3 separate regions of the Homo sapiens genome follow, and regions 1 and 3 are each linked to region 2. Evidence: fine-mapped expression QTL. A gene starts in region 2. Each other region holds a variant in brackets. All regions are shown on one strand. Distances are from middle to middle.

Region 1 (5,231 bases), 26 kb after region 2:
TAGTATAATCTGAAAAACTGGCAGCTGCCAGACGAATGACTGAAGGAGTAAGCTCAAGTGCACTAGGTGAGGTCAGGCCTGAAGGTCATTGGACTGATACTGAACCTGGCGTTTTGACAGGAATCCTATTAGAAATGCCACTTAGTCACTTGCCTCCTGACTGCTTCATGGTAGGAACAGAGGCTCAAACTATGGCCTGAATTTTTTGGATTAAGTTTAAGTTTTACTTAATATTATCCCAATTTTATCTCAGACATTATCTCAAAATTATTTCAAAATTTATGGTTGAAGAGAGGCTGTTGAGTATAAATTGCTAATGTACTCTGCTGAATTCCATCAGCTATGTGATTTGACTGAGAACAGTACGATCCTAGCCCACTGGGGTCTGGTGAATTGCATCTGCTCAGTCAGAGTGTTCCTTGAGCTGGAATTGAAATGCATGGCCCTTTAGTTTCCAGTGTGATGCCAACACTTCAGGCAATTGACTTTTGCTCTTCAGTCTCCAATAGGGGGAAAATTATGAAATAAAATGGGGATAGGCCAGGCATCCTCAAGATTCAAACCCATAAATATAAATAACTGTAATTAATCATATGCAGTCTCTCTTGCCTGTTGGAAATTTATACTCAGCTGGGTCAATAAGCTTCACACAGCTCTTAACTTCCTGGCCTGTAGTTGGTGGGAAATGTTCTGGGTGCGTCAGCCTTTAGAGATGTGACCTAGGGTTCTTTTCCAATATGGGTCCAAAATCAGTGCAAATTATAATGAGTTGTGGGGTGAGAAAAGTCACCTGGAAACAACCCCAGCCCAAGGGGAAATAGAAATATAAAAAAGACTTCTGTTGGCATTTAAGAGGCTCTCTTAGATGACACTGTCTGTTCATTGTTGTTAGCCTGTTAGACTGAGTGAGATGAACAGTCTTTCAAGTATGTAAGTTCAGTACATATTTACATTCAAGTTTATCCCTAAAGTATTTGTTTCCCTATTATAGAATCTTGTAGATTGCAGTTGGTATTTTTGCCTGTTTTCTCATATAATTTGTTAACTCTTTCCCCCTCTCCCATTGTGTCCTTTTTTCTATACTTGCATCTACTCATTATGAACATGGCTAATGGTATCCTAATGAAAAAGCAACCCTCTCTCTCTCCTGGGGGTCATTGGTGTCATTTGAATATGCCAAGGATAGCATCCTATCACTAGCAGGTCCCTGGCTGTGCCTGTGCCTATAGGAGTAGTTGTGTTCCTGCAGGCAAGCACTAAATTATCACATTATCTCTCTCTATCTCTTTTTTTTTTTTTTTTTTTTTTTTTGAGACAGGATCTCACTCTGTTGCCCAGGGTGGAGTGCAGTGGTGGGATCTCAGCTCGCTGTAGCCTTGACCTTCCAGGCTCTACTTTTACTCTTATTACCCTAAAAGGCATCCTCTATACTGCAGCTAGGGCATTTCTTCCTTTCTTTCTGAAATATAAGTTTCATCGTATCATTGTACTGATTAAAATTCTCCACTGACTTTTTTGTTTGTTTGTTTTTGAGACAGGGTCTCACTTTGTCACCCAGGTTGGTGTGATCGTGGCTCACTGTAGGCTCCAACTCCTGTGCTCAAGCAATCCTCCTGCCTCAGCCTCCTGAGTGGCTGGGACTATAGGTGCATGTTACCATGCCCAGCTCATTTTTTCTATTTTTTGTAGGCACAGGGTCTCACTATGTTACCCAGGCTAGTCTCAAACTCCTGACCTCAAGCGATCCTCCCACCTTGGCCTCCCCAAGTGCTGGGATTACAGGCATGAGCCATCATGTCCAGCCTACCCCAGTTATCCTCTAACCTATTATTTCATCTTTATTTTCTCCTAGTAATTCTCACTTTCAAAATACTTAATTTTTATGTTTGTTTACATGTTTATTTTTGTCTTTTCCAATCCATGAGAGTAGAGGAATTCCCAGCCCCTGGAACAGTGCTGGGGATCTGCCAGGTATTCAGTCAATCCCAGTTGAATGTATGTTACCTGAACCAATGCTCCTCCTCCTGTCTTCTTCACTTGGGTAGGTCCTTCACGGATACTTTCCTGAGTATTTGATGGAACTCTTGCTTTGGTTATATTCTAAGAAATTACAATTTTAATCTTTCCTTTGCTATTGGTATGTTTTCAATAAGCCAGTTCTCAAGGAATTTTCGAGTTTTTTAGAAGCAGCAGATGGATTTTTTTGGTCCATTTATCTGCAAATATTTCTTTAAATGCAGGAGAGCACAGAAAAATATACTAATTGTTTCTAGCACAGAAGCAGAGAGTGTTGCCATGTTTTTTCAAGATAATGTGGATCTATTCAGATGAGGTAGAATTGAAATAAGAATTTTCTTTTTCTAAGGCCTGGACTCTGTGCATGTACCTGGTTTGACATTCTTTTTTTCTTTTTCTTTTTTCTTTTTTGAGATGGAGTTTTGCTCTTGTTGCCCAGGCTGGAGTCCAATGGCGTGATCTCGGCTCACTGCAACCTCCGCCTCCCGGGTTCAAGCAATTCTCCTGCCTCAGCCTCCCAAGTAGCTGGGATTCCAGGCATGCAACACCACACCCGGATAC[AT/A]TTTTTTTTTTTTTTTTTTTGTATTTTTAGTAGAGACGGGGTTTCTCCATATTGGTCGGGCTGGTCTCAAACTTCCACCCTCAGGTGATCTGCCTGCCTTGGCTTCCCAAAGTGCTGGGATTACAGGCATGAGCCACCGCACCTAGCCTGACATTCTTAACTCTATGTAAGAGGCTGGGGTAGTTTGTTTCATTCACAGTGTGTACAGCAAAATCCAGATGTTTTCTAGTAAGCTCCACTAACCTGAAACACATAAAAGAAGGGGGTAAAAAGATCCCTGAAGAGTTAGAGCCAGAACATTGAAAACCAAGTGTTAAAATTCTAGTAAGTAGCTCCTTTAGCCTTACTTAGAGCTATTTACTTGTATTTGAAACAGTTAAACTAACTTGGCTCTCATTTTTCTAACCACAGTGGTAACAATGACGAGTTAATGGGTGCAGCACACCAACATGGCACATGTATACTTATGTAACAAACCTGCATGTTGTGTACATATATCCTAGAACTTAAAGTATTAAAAAAGAAGTGAGCTCAAAGATAAACAGGGAAGATTATCATCAGCCTGATAGTTTGGAAGAAGCAGGAAAATTGTAGGAAGCAGAGAGAGGAAGAATTCATACAGGAACAGACTGGGACCTGAGACCACTAAGTAAAGGCATTAATAGTGTTGTCACTCCTATTATTCCTGAGGCCATCACCATATCATAGCATGTACATATGGATGGCTGTAAGTCGTCAATAATTGAATTCATGGTTAATATTATTTAAGAAGCCAAAGTGTGACTTACATTCTTGAAATATAGTATTTTAATCCAAAAGAATACAGAATTTTTTTTTTAACTGTATACTCCACTCAGATGTAAACTCTTGGAATGCAGGGATTTTTTTGTGTGTGTTCTTTGTTTGCTCAGTGCCTGACACATGATGGATGATCAGTAAATAATTATTAAATAAAACCATGAATGCAAGTTTTAATTATCTAACAGTGCTAAATAAATAGGACATTAAGATAATGCCACATTTAATGCATGAGGGTTGTTTCCCCTTCTTCATCTATTGAATGAAGAAAAACCATAAAGTAATAAACTTTTAAAGTTAAAATAGCTTTGGACATTTTGAAGGCTAGCTCATATATAGTTGGAGTGAGGATCAGCAAGTTCAAGTGATTTGCCTGAAATCGCAGAGCAAGTTAGTGGAAGAGACAGAATTACAAGCGTGTCTTTCCTTCCAGAATACCCCCTGATGATTTTCTTTTTTAATTTAGAGTTTTGGGAATACAACATAGAGAATTATATATTTTTGGGAAAGACTATAGAGTTCTTTTTTGAAAAAAAGATCAATGACAGCTTCAAAAGGAATATTGAGTCGAACCCTTTATTTTCTCTATTTATGCTATTTAAATTTTAGACCTGTCACCTCTGTGCTATTAGCTCTGTAGTGTTGATACCAAACATCTTATGCAGAATAACTAGACTATAGTACTTGAATGCTTTTCATGAGGGTTTGTGCTAGCCCTTTTAAAGAAGAAAAGAAATATCTTTTTCTTTAGTTTGGAAAGGATGCGTTATTCAACTGAGGAGAGTAAGATCTTATGACCAAGATCATTTTAGCCAAAATGACTGAGATAGAAATACAGCTTTCCTCATTATTTTTGCATAGGTGAAGGAAAATGTAGTATATTTTCTTCACTTTTTTTGGAGTGGGGATGGAGCATTTAGGAAATACATTGTTTTCACTTACTTTAAATGGGAATTTTGTTAGCAGTATGAATTACTTCAATCTGTTTCTCTCATCTGATTCTTATTTCCTTGTGAGTCAGACATTTTTAGGAAGTGTAATCAGTAAGCTAAATATTCTAATACATGATTATTTTCACTACAGTACGTCTCAGGTTTCCTTTTTCATATATGCATTGTATCTGTACTTTGGCTCTTTGTTGTAGTTCCATTTATACTTGTGGATTATTAGATGTACAGAGGAGTAAATTTTAAATGTAAATTTCAACAGGTTACAGGAGAAAAAAGACTGCAGGATGGAAAAACTAGTCAGCTTTTTTCCTAGGGATCTTCTCTCTGTTAAGGAAACAGAGTGACTGGTCTTCCCACCACAGCGCACTTCTTGATCTCTTATAACTCTCAGTCACCACTTATACATTAAATATATGTGTAGTGATGTTTATAATAGAGCTGTATTCAAATTGAGAACTTTCTTTTACAATGAACTGAACAATAACTGAAGTTATTGTGCTATAACTAATTATTATTAAAAATTCAGTCATAATTTAAAAAAATAAGCTCAGGATTTCTTAAACCATCTTCAACAGATACTTCCCCAAATATATTTCTAACGGCATATAATGCAGTTGCAACAGGAACTTTTGAAAGAATTGGTACATTTTCTTTTCTTTTTTTTTTTGAGATGGAGTCTTGCTTTGTTGCCCAGGCTGGTGTGCAGTGGCATGATCTTGGCTCACTAAAGCCTCCACCTCCTGGGTTCAAGTGATTCTCCTGCCTCAGCCTCCTGAGTAGCTGGGACTACAGGCACCCATCACAACGCCTGGCTAATTTTTGTAGTTTTAGTAGAGATGGGGCTTCACCATGTTGGCCAGGCTGGTCTCGAACTCCTGACCTCAAGTGATCCACCCGCCACGGCC
Region 2 (5,231 bases):
GGAAAATAATCAGCTGACATAGTATGGATTGGACCAGATCGCTCACCTAAGCATTCATTTCAAATCAAGAAACATTTAAACATCAGTTATATTCAGGCACTATGCTAGGCACTAGAGTACAAAAGTGAGTAACTGATGGTCCCATTTCCCAAGCACTGAACTGATCTGGGATAATCAGTGAGAAGGAAATCCAGGACTGGCACCCAACTCAACCAGATTATTCCTTTTCTGGGTAACATGTTGCATTTCTAGATAAATGATGAGGGTTTGAAAAAAATGATAAAAATATTGGTTTGATTTGTCAAACTAAAGAAAAAAGAACTGAGGCATACTTAATATAACCAGTCTCATGATGTTGCCCAGTCACAAGTTTTTATTTATTTATTTTTTGAGATGGAGTCTCACTCTGTTGCCCAGGGTGGAGTTCAGTGGTGCCATCTCAGCTCACTGTAACCTCTGCCTCCCAGGTTCAAGTGATTCTCCTGCCTCAGCTTCCTGAGTAGCTGGGATTACAGGTGTTTGCCACCATGCCCGGCTAATTTTTGTATTTTTAGTAGAGATAGGGTTTCACCATGTTGGTTAGGCTGGTCTTGAACTCTTGACCTCGTGATCTGCCCACCTCAGCCTCCCAAAGTGCTGAGATTACAGGCGTGACCCACTGCGCCTGCCCGGCCACAAGGAAGTTTTTAAAGGAAAAGAAGAGGCAGTTTCTAAATTGTTTACCAATAATTTACATAAAAAAACAAACTATTAATTGTCTATAGATTGTTCTTCGTATCACAAATTCCAGGAACATGAAGATATGGTTGGGTAGTCAGTCATGAACAAAATGCCTTTAAACAATCGCCTCTGAGCATGAGTGTGGGGGGTGCAACTTATGTCCCATATTCAAGGTCTCTCTGGGCCTGATAAATTTTGCATACCTCACATTGCTCAAATGCTCTGAACTATTTTTCTTTTCTCAACTACAATTTCCTTTTTCTGGTTGCTCATGATTCAACTGGGGGAGCTTTTAAACCGTGGTTCTCAAACTTTAATGTGCATCAGAACTACCCAAAGGGCTTGTTAAATCTGGGTAGCTCAGCCCCAGCCCCAGAGTCTATGAATCAGGTCACTGGAGTACAGTTTCTGTCAAGTTCTCAGGTGATGCTGATGCTGCGGGCTCCAGTGACTACACTTTTAGAGCCAGTTTTAAAATACAAGGACTTGCAGATCCCACGTCCAGACTGACTCATTGGACTTGGGGATGGAAATCTGGCATTCCACCCCTCCCTGCCCCCTCCCCCCAATTTTAATGTGTCCAAGGGTGAGAATCATTGCTCCTCTGTGGACTATGGATGGTTCCCTGAAGTTACTGAGTTTGGGATTTAATAAATATATGCATTCCTCTGGGTCAACTACAGGAATTCTGCGGTATTTAAGGACATTAAATGAGTGACTTAATACTTTATTTAAAAAAATACCACTGCTTTTTGGTTCACACTAATTTTCTTCCTTCTTTTGGAAAGGCATTTCCGTCCATCTCCTGGATATTTTCCAATACCACGATAGAAAGGTTATTAGTACAGCACCCAGAGGTCTTCGGAGCAAAGCTGTTAAAGAAGTGGGGTCCATTTGAGCCCCAACTTTGCCTTCCTTAGGTCCCCTTGGGCTTGTCTAGCCCTAGGAGTTCCAACAAGTAAGCTGGGCATGCTCAGTGGGCAGGGTCGTTTTTTTTTTTTGGGTGGCGGGGGGTTGCAAGTGGGAAGCCTGCTGTTCAGCTGCCGGGGCTCTCCGCCTCCCCCCACCTGTATGAGGCTGGGTCTGGGGAACCTGTGCTCAGCATTCCACCCCCTGGAGCTTGGGCTTGGTCTTCCCTGCGGGTCCCTGCGCTGACATTCAGGCGGGGAGCCAGGAGGCCTGGCGCGCCTCCAGAGCCCGCCGGGGGAGCCGGGCGAGGGTTCTGGGCTCTGACGGCGGGGTCGCAGGGTCGCCCGCCTCCTGGACACGTCTGTAGGCCTAGGGAAGCCTGCCGGCCGGGAGGTACAGAGTAGGAGAAGCCAGATCCCAGGGCGGACAACGAGAAGTCGTCAGGTAAGCCAGCCCCGCCAGCGTGCCGGCGGACGAGTGTCTCCTCTCCCGCAGGCAGATGGCCAGGGCGGCCCGCATGGGCGAGGGCACAGGAAATCGGACACCGCCACCGTCTTCCCCAGCCTGGCCTAGCTCAGGCTTTCCAGTCCGCCAGCCCGCTGGCAAGGCGGGGCGGAGGTCTGGAGTCCGGCATCGCCGAGGCACAAAGCAGGAACTGCAGCCAGGGGCGAGGGCCCTTGCGTGTGGCGCTGCGCGACCCCACCCGGCGGCAGGACCCGCGTCCCCGTCTAGTCACGTTCATTGGGCCACGGAGACCACCTCGCTCGCCGCCCGCTGTTGGCTTTTCCCTCCCACACCCCCGCCAACCCCGGCCCCGGTTCCCGCCCCCACTTCCGCGTTTCCCCGCTGGGCCGGAGGAGCCTGGGCCCGAGGTATCCGGGCAGGAGGTGGCGGCCTCGCCGCCCTGGTCAGGCCTCCGGGAGGGAGCAGGCGCGGGAGCGGGAGGAGGAAGTCGGGAAGAGGGAAGGCGGGGGCGCGGCCCGCCCGGCGCTCGAGTTACACCCGCCCAGCCCGCCTCGAGTGACAGCCCCGCGCGCCTCGCTGGGAGCACCCGGGCCGAGGCTCTGATTCTGGGGGGAGGCCGACTCCACCCTGGCTGGAGGAACTGGGTGCTCCTGCCCGCTGGCCCCTCGCGCGTGAGGATCTATCTCAGGTGTGTGCTTCCTGGGAGACCCCTTCCCCCGCCTCTAGTATTCTAGGGGGGGAGTGGTCCCTTTCTGACCCGGGCGAGTGTTCTGGGACTCCAGTCTTGGCGGTAGGTGGTGGCGGGAAACGGGAAAGATTTAGAATTTCTTCCCACCAGCAGAAGATGGATTCGCTCTTCTCTAGGGTTTCGTTGTTTATGTTTTGGAGGCGGCATTTGTAAAATAGTAAAGTGGCAGGACTTTTGGGGCGAGGGTTGGTACCCCATTGAAAGTTCATGCAAACTTTTAGCTTGTAGATGCGGCTAGTCTGATAAGGATTGTTGCTCCCTTCCGAAGCAAGAGTGAGAACGAGTCTGGAGGAGGGCTGAGGCTTCTTTGAGAAACTCAGCTGCTGGCGTGTGACCGTCCTAGGAGGAAATGGAAGGTGCACACTGATAACTTAAAACAGCCTCCACTCCCTATGTAGTAACTTCTACCAGCAAAAATAGATTTGCAAAGAGTGCTTTGGCAGGAAGGTGTAGCTGGGTGAATGAAGTGCTGCTCTTAGCAGATGGTCTCTAGTCTGGCTTCCACCTTGTGCAGTGGAATATTCACTCCCAGAAGAGTTCCAGAGTAATTTACAAACACAAATTCTTGCAAAGTGTTAGTGACATGGGCAACCCAAATCACACACAACACATTATAAATATCATAGGAGGCAGCTATAGAAATAGCAGCTAGTCAACTTATACTTGTATAAATAGGTGAGGGAAGGAAGTTAGTAAGTGACAGGGAGTCTTTATTGCTAAAACAAAACTGTTAGTATTTTGCATGTGTTCCAAGTTTAAAGAGATGTGAAGTTTCTTTTTGGCGTGTGGACGGTGCTGGCAGCTGTCACACTGGGCCCAGGCACTTCTTCGTAGCTACTGACCACTCTAGTCCCAGTCCTACAGTTCTTGCTGGCTACCACATGACATCTGGATGCCATTGCCCAATGGAGACCGTGTGCAGTCTGGGGAACCTTGTGATGTGGATGTTGAAACCCCCCTCTGTTTCTCACAGGGGCGTTATGTCAAATTACAACACTCCCTTGACTTTTACAAATCAACTCGTGAAATAATACAGCAATATTTTAATGAATAAATGGGTAAATATGGGGTTTTGGGTTTGAGAACCAACAATGGATTCATTGCAACTGTCCATTCTCATAGCTTATAGAGTCACTTTATTTTATAAAGAAATTCTAAACAGCATTAGAGCTCTGCTTCCTTCTTTCTCCCTTGTGATTCATTCAAAGATGCAATGGCTTGGTTCAGGAATTGACAAAAGGGCCACAGTGTTACCAATTGTTAGTGAGTGTTACCACCCCCTTTAGTTTTTTTTGTAACTATTTAATCTCATTGTAGATATTTTAAAAGATTTGATGATTATTGTGCATAACTCATGTTGGCAAACTATTATAACTCTGAACTTATCCTGTTTGGTTGTTTTCTTTCATCTCTAGCGTGTAAGTTCTATGAGAGTAGCAGGGCTTGTTCTGTCTTGCATACTTTCAAAACTCTAATGCCTGGAGTGGTGACTAGCTTGTAATACACCCTCAATAAATGTTTTCTCAATGAGTGACCTCCAATGCCTAGAGGGGTGACTAGCTTGTAATACACCCTCAATAAATGTTTTCTCAATGAGCGACTGAACTGTGGAACAAACTCCAGCTGAGGGTAGTTGTGGAGCGGGGAGCCAAAGACTTTGGCCTTAGGTCATCTTTTAAAACTCAGCCTCAATTGTCTCATTGGCAAAATATGGATAATAAATGCTATGACGTGTGTAAAATTGCTAGCAATGTACCTGGCAAGTAGTAGACTTCAAAAGACTAGCTTCCATCCTATATTTTTCCTTCTTATACTCAAGTAGGAAAATATGGGCAAAGAATGTAGTTAGCTTGAAAATTTGGGCAAAGAATTCTTGCATGTTGTGCATGAATTATCCGTACATTTTTTTCGGTTAGTTGAGTGTGTTGGGATGGGGAGAGGAGAGGCGAGTTAGTGGTAGCTATGGTTATTAGAGAAGGGAAGCAATTTTCAGATCAGTATCTAATTTCTCAGTTTTAGTTTTTGAATGTGATGATGTTTCTGTTTAGGTTTTCCAAAACTTGATTCTTTCTGTTTGTCAACACCTGGACTCATGGGGCTATCCTAAGTGCAGAAACAACACTTCAGAAAGAGGACTAGAAATCAAATATATGAACACTAGTCTTCTTAAATGAAATTTTCTGTATTCTTGTGCAGCATTATATTGTGTAATAAGTGCTAAATAAAAAAATAGTTAACCTCTTTTGAGAAGCTTACAGTTGTTTAACAAGGTAAAACATAGATGGAAAACAATTGGAGACCAACATAAGACCTCGTACAATCATTTTTCCAGTGGTAGGATGTTGGCCAGAACTGATGTGATTATGAAGGAAAAGGTTAATATTGGCTC
Region 3 (5,231 bases), 25 kb before region 2:
AATTGGTGATACTTGTTATTGGCAGCTCTAGCAAACTAATGCATTAGGTTATCAAGAAGTAACTCAGCAGTTAGGATACTATAGTCTTACATTTTTGACTTGGCAGAGACCAGTATATTTGTGCATTAATACCATTAACTTCATTCTTAATATTAGTTCTTGACAATTTAAGCAACACAAAGCTAAACACAACAATAATAGTAGAAAGTCTGCTGAGTGTGGTGGCTGACATCATAATCCCAGTTCTTTGGGAAGCTGAGGTGGGAGGATCTTTCAGGGCCAGGTGTTCAAGACCAGCCTGGCCAACATAGGCAGACCCCCCAACTCCACAAAAAATAAAAAAAAATTAGCCAGGCATGGTGGTGCATGCCTGTAGTCCTAGCTACTCAGGAGGCTGAGGTGGGAGGATCACTTGAGCCTGGGAGTTTGAGGTTGCTGTGAGCTATGATTTCACCACTGTACTCCAAACTGAATGACAGAGGGAGATTCCATCTTTAAAAAACAAAAACAAAAAAACCTAGAAAGTCAAGGAACAATTCAGCATAGTTAGGAGAGAGGACCTATATTCCATAAATAAACTATTCTCCAAAGTTAACATCCTGGACCAGGTATGGTGGTTCATGCCTTTAATCCCAACATTTTGGGAGGTTGAGGCAGGAGGATCCCTTGAGGCCAGGAGTTTGACACCAGCCTGGGTCAACACAGTGAGACACCAGCTAATAAAAAAATTAGCCAGGTGTGTTGAGGCAGAGGATCCCTTGAACCCAGGAATTTGAGGCTACAGTGTGCTATGATTGTGGCACTGCACCCCAGCCTAGGCAACAGAGCAATATCCCATCTCAAAAAGAAGAAAAAAGGAAGGCTTATAGATGATAAAAGTAATTGACAGCCACTTTTTAAAAATTAGCTTTTTGCTTTTATTTATTTATTTTTCTTCCATTTCAGGCTAGCAGTGTGTGACACCATAACAAAGTTTAAGGGCAGCACGTCTCACACATGCGGGTGAATACTCAGTCATCATGCTTATAAACTACAGAAGGATCTGAATGAGTTTCTAGAATAATTCCTAGTCTAAAGGTTTGTAGTTCTATTTTCATGACTATTTTAGGAGCTAGAAGCATTAAATGTAATTAATGATTGTGAAAAGTTGCAGACACAGGCATAACACAAAGCAAGGAGGACACAAAACCTCAGAGAGGCAATAACATACTTTTATTTTCACATTCAATCCTATAAATATCATTGCAAAATCTATATATGTGTTTTGGCACATAATATATTTACTAGTCATCTTAGCTTTGTGAATTTTCTAATTTGCTCTATTTAAAAAAGATTACCATATTTTTTCTAGAGATGGGGTCTTGCTGTGTTGCCTAGGTTGATCTTGAACTCCTAGACTCAAGCAACCCTCCCGTCTCACCTAAATAAGATACCCTGATAGGAGCTTCCAGGTTTAACTTTGGTTGAACCATTAACACATTTGTCTTTATTTTTTAGTTTTACTCATGTATGGCAAAGTGCTGCATTACAAAGTCATATACCATTTGACTCTGTTTTGCTTCTTAGGATTAATGACCACCTTATCTAGATTTTGTGCTTAAAAGGTAAATACTGCTATTAGTTACTTGGAGACCTCTTCACTTTTCCCCTTTCCTCAATTATATATATATACAGCATTTGCCACAAAAGGATATTGCACTGGTAAAAGGAACACTCCATTTGGTCAATTAACAGAATGTCTAACATAGACAAATTACTTCCACTTTAACGTGATTATTTTCCCCACTTCTAAGACAAATTCTATGTTGTGGGAGAAAAATAATAGGGTTGGTGAAAATAAATAATACTACATATAGTGTTTATAAGAAACTAGATGTTGTCTAACTTGAACAGCAAAATAATTACCATAAACTAGAACACTTCTAGTTAACAGATGAAAAAACAAGGGGGTAAGTAGCTTATTTAAAAATCCTTCAAAAAGTAAGTAGAAGGCTGGAATTCTGACTCTAGAGCTTATGTTCTTAACAACTTGTCTAGGCTCCATAACAAATTGTCTGTGTACTTCATTTGTATAACTTTCCAGTCACATAAGTTCTCTCTCTCTCTCTTTTTATTTTTAAATTTTTTTGAGATGGAGTTTCATTCTTGTCACCCAGGCTGGAGTGCAATGGTGTGATCTTGGCTCGCTGCAACCTCCACCTCCTGAATTCAAGCAATTCTCCTCCCTCAGCCTCCCAAGTAGCTGGGATTACAGGCACCCACCACCCTGCCCAGCTAATTTTTGTATTTTTAGTAGAGACAGGGTTTTACAATATTGGCCAGGCTTGTCTTAAACTCCTGACCTCATGTGATCCACCCGCCTCAGCCTCCCAAAGTGCTGGGATTGTAATCTGTATATACAGAATCTAATATACAGAATATAAATTCTGTATATTAAACAAAACAGCAATGAGAATTTCTAGCAGTTTTTCCGTTAGCACCAAGTAGCTGAAAGACATTGAACTAATAAAATGTTTTCTGCTATGACCTTAAGGGTCTTTAAACCTAAAGTTGTTCTTCAGAAGGGTAAGGAATTCCAAAAAATAATGGTCATTATCTGAATTTAAGATCCTGTATTACAGAATCAATACAAATTATAAAAATAGCATTTAAAATGTTTGAATCATTGATAAGAATTCTTCCTACATAATCTTTCATGGGCTTTAGGAAT[A/AT]TATGCCTAGCCAGGAAAACCAACCTCACTCAGATATGAAGTCGCTTCTTTGTTTCAGTTTACCATCCGGAGCAAAAGTGCTTGGCCACCTCATTTGAAAACACTGAAACCATGCAAAGCTTCTCTTAGTAGTATTGAGCCGCAAAGATGTAGGATTTATTAGTCAGCCTTTAAAAATATCTGCAGACAACTGTATGAAAAACTTGCCCCATTGTACAATCCTTAGGAGTATAGGATTTGGCCAGGAGTGGTGGCTCACACCTGTAATCACAGCACTTTGGGAGGCTAAGGTGGGTGGATCATTTGAGGTCAGGAGTTCGAGACTAGCCTGGCCAGCATGGTGAAACCCTATCTCTACTAAGAATACAAAAAAAATTAGCCTGGCATGGTGGTGGATGCCTGTAGTCCCAGCTACTTGGAAGGTTGAGGCAGGAGAATTGCTTGAACCCGGGAGGCGGAGGTTGCAGTGAGCCGAGATCTTGCCACTGCACTACAGCCTGGCACAGAGTGAGACTTCGTCTGTAAAAAAAAAAAAAAAATACAGGATTTGGTCAGACTGCCAAGGTTTCAATTCCATCTCCATCTTTTACTAGTTCTGTAATTTTGATGGGGGCATTTAGCCCCTCTGTCTCAGTTTTCTTCTTGGTAAAAAGGGCATACAATTGTATGTATCTTATAGGGTTGCTGTGAGAATTAAATGGGCTAATGCACATAAAGCTCTTCCACAGTGTCTGGCACATAGTAAAATTAGCTCAATAAATATTAGCTATACATAACAAATGAGAACCAATATTGTAAAACCTTCTTCTAACTAGTATAAAGATGAGCAACATTTGGCTTTGGATTATCCTAAAGAAAAAACAGTAAGCAGAAAATTATACCTTTTAAAACTATGATGCCAGGAGCAGTGAGTGGCTCATGCTTGTAATCTCAGCACTCTGAGAGGCTGAGACAGGTGGATCAATTAAACTCAGGAGTTTGAGACCAGCCTGGGCAACATAGTGAAACCCCTTCTCTACAAAAAATACAAAAATTAGTCTGGCATGATGGTGTGTGTCTGTAGTCCCAGCTACTTGGGAGGCTGAGGCAGGAGGATTACATGAGCCCTGGAGGTTGAGGCTGCAGTAAGCTGTAATCATGCCACTACACTCCAGCCTGGGTGACAGAGCAAGACACTGTCTGAGGGTGGGTGGAGTTGGGAGAAAGATGAGCAATGTGTTAAGAGGACAAGTAATTATAAAACTGAGAGAAGAAACTGCATAGAGCCAAAATATATTTTCTCTGAGCTCGTAAAAATGGCAACTCTTTATTTCATCAATATTCCATAACCTTTGCTTATTCTTTTTAGAGCTATCTTGGTGGGGGTGATACTGAAAGTAATAATCAGCCAGGTGAGGTGGCTCATGCCTGCAATTCCAGCACTTTGGGAGGCCGAGGCAGGTGGATCACCTGAGGTCAGGAGTTTGAGACCAGCCTGGCAAACATGGCGAAATCCCGTCTCTACTAAAAATACAAAAAAATTAGCCAGGTGTGGTGGTTCGTGCCTGTAGTCCCAGCTACGTGGGAGGCTGAGGCAGGAGAATCACTTGAACCCAGGAGGCAGAGGTTGCAGTGATCCGAGATCATGCCACTGGACTCCAGCCTGGGTGTGACAGAGTGAGACTCCACCACACAAAAAAAATAAATAAATAAAAATAAAAATAAATAAGGCCTGGCCCAGTGGCTCACACCTGTAATCCCAGCACTTTGGGAGGCAGAGGTGGGCGGATCACCTAAGGTCGGGAGTCCAAGACCAGCCTGGCCAACAAGGTGAGACCCTGTCTCTACTACAAATACAAAATTAGCCAGGCGTGGTGGCGCATGCCTGTAATCCCAGCTACGTGGGAGGCTGAGGCAGGAGAATCGCTTGAACCCAGGAAGCGGAGGTTGTGGTGAGCCAAGATCGTGCCATTGACCTCCAGCCTGGGCAATAAGAGCAAAACTCTGTCTCAAATAAATAAATAAATAATTCCTGAATCTTTTTCCATGGGAGTGTGGAAAATACGAATAAAGTGATTTATATGCTCAATATAATTAATGAATAAGCAGAAATATTCAATTGAATTTAGTTTGCTTCAAAAATTCAGTCACTTCTGCTTAAATAACTTTAAGGTTAAATTAAGAAGAGTTGATGCAAATGCACATATCACTTGGGGACAAAGTTTGATTTTCCTTATTATTAAAGAATAGGGTCTTGATGTTATTCTCACTCTTCCATTTAAAAATTGGAATATAAATAAAGAACAAATGTCATCAATGTATTCTTATTTCAATATTCTAAGTGAAATTAGAATATTGCTTTCAGAATTGATGTTTTAAAGCAGAGTATTGTTGTTGAACATAAATAACGTATAAGTGACTATCAACCTATGTTTCTCCATTCTTTAAATTGTATATAAACTGCAGGTTAAACCCAACAGTTCTGTGATAATTGATGTGAAGCGTAAGGGGAGAGAATCAATGTGAGGTCAAACGTTCACAT

Direction of the effects. Positions count from the first base shown, and alleles are read on the strand shown. Sizes are in standard deviations (SD) of each study's normalised expression. Not every link is listed here.
With allele A in place of AT in region 1, the expression in monocytes after Pam3CSK4 of the gene that starts at base 2,648 in region 2 is higher (moderate effect, 0.48 SD a copy in Quach 2016).

The links. PIP is the estimated chance that this variant, and not a neighbour inherited with it, causes the effect. A credible set is the group of variants that fine-mapping cannot tell apart.
Region 1: its variant is the best candidate, but not a certain one, in a credible set for the expression of GPD2 in monocytes after Pam3CSK4 (Quach 2016, PIP 0.72).
Region 3: its variant is the best candidate, but not a certain one, in a credible set for the expression of GPD2 in whole blood (INTERVAL, PIP 0.57).

The regions. Positions count from the first base shown.
Region 1 is chr2:156,459,876-156,465,106 of GRCh38, forward strand. All of the region lies in intron 1 of GPD2 (glycerol-3-phosphate dehydrogenase 2), which reads left to right. Among named protein-coding and RNA genes, the nearest start is that of GPD2, 26 kb to the left of the region's middle. The variant AT/A (reference allele first, on the strand shown) is at 2,578.
Region 2 is chr2:156,433,732-156,438,962 of GRCh38, forward strand. GPD2 (glycerol-3-phosphate dehydrogenase 2) reads left to right here and starts at 2,648. Exons shown (of 17, transcript NM_000408.5): 1 at 2,648-2,782. RefSeq lists silencers at 1,750-1,919, 2,360-2,769 and an enhancer at 2,160-2,209.
Region 3 is chr2:156,409,205-156,414,435 of GRCh38, forward strand. LOC124906173 (small nucleolar RNA U13) reads right to left here and starts at 1,042; the gene lies at 940-1,042. It also overlaps a transcript of GPD2 not described here. The variant A/AT (reference allele first, on the strand shown) is at 2,711.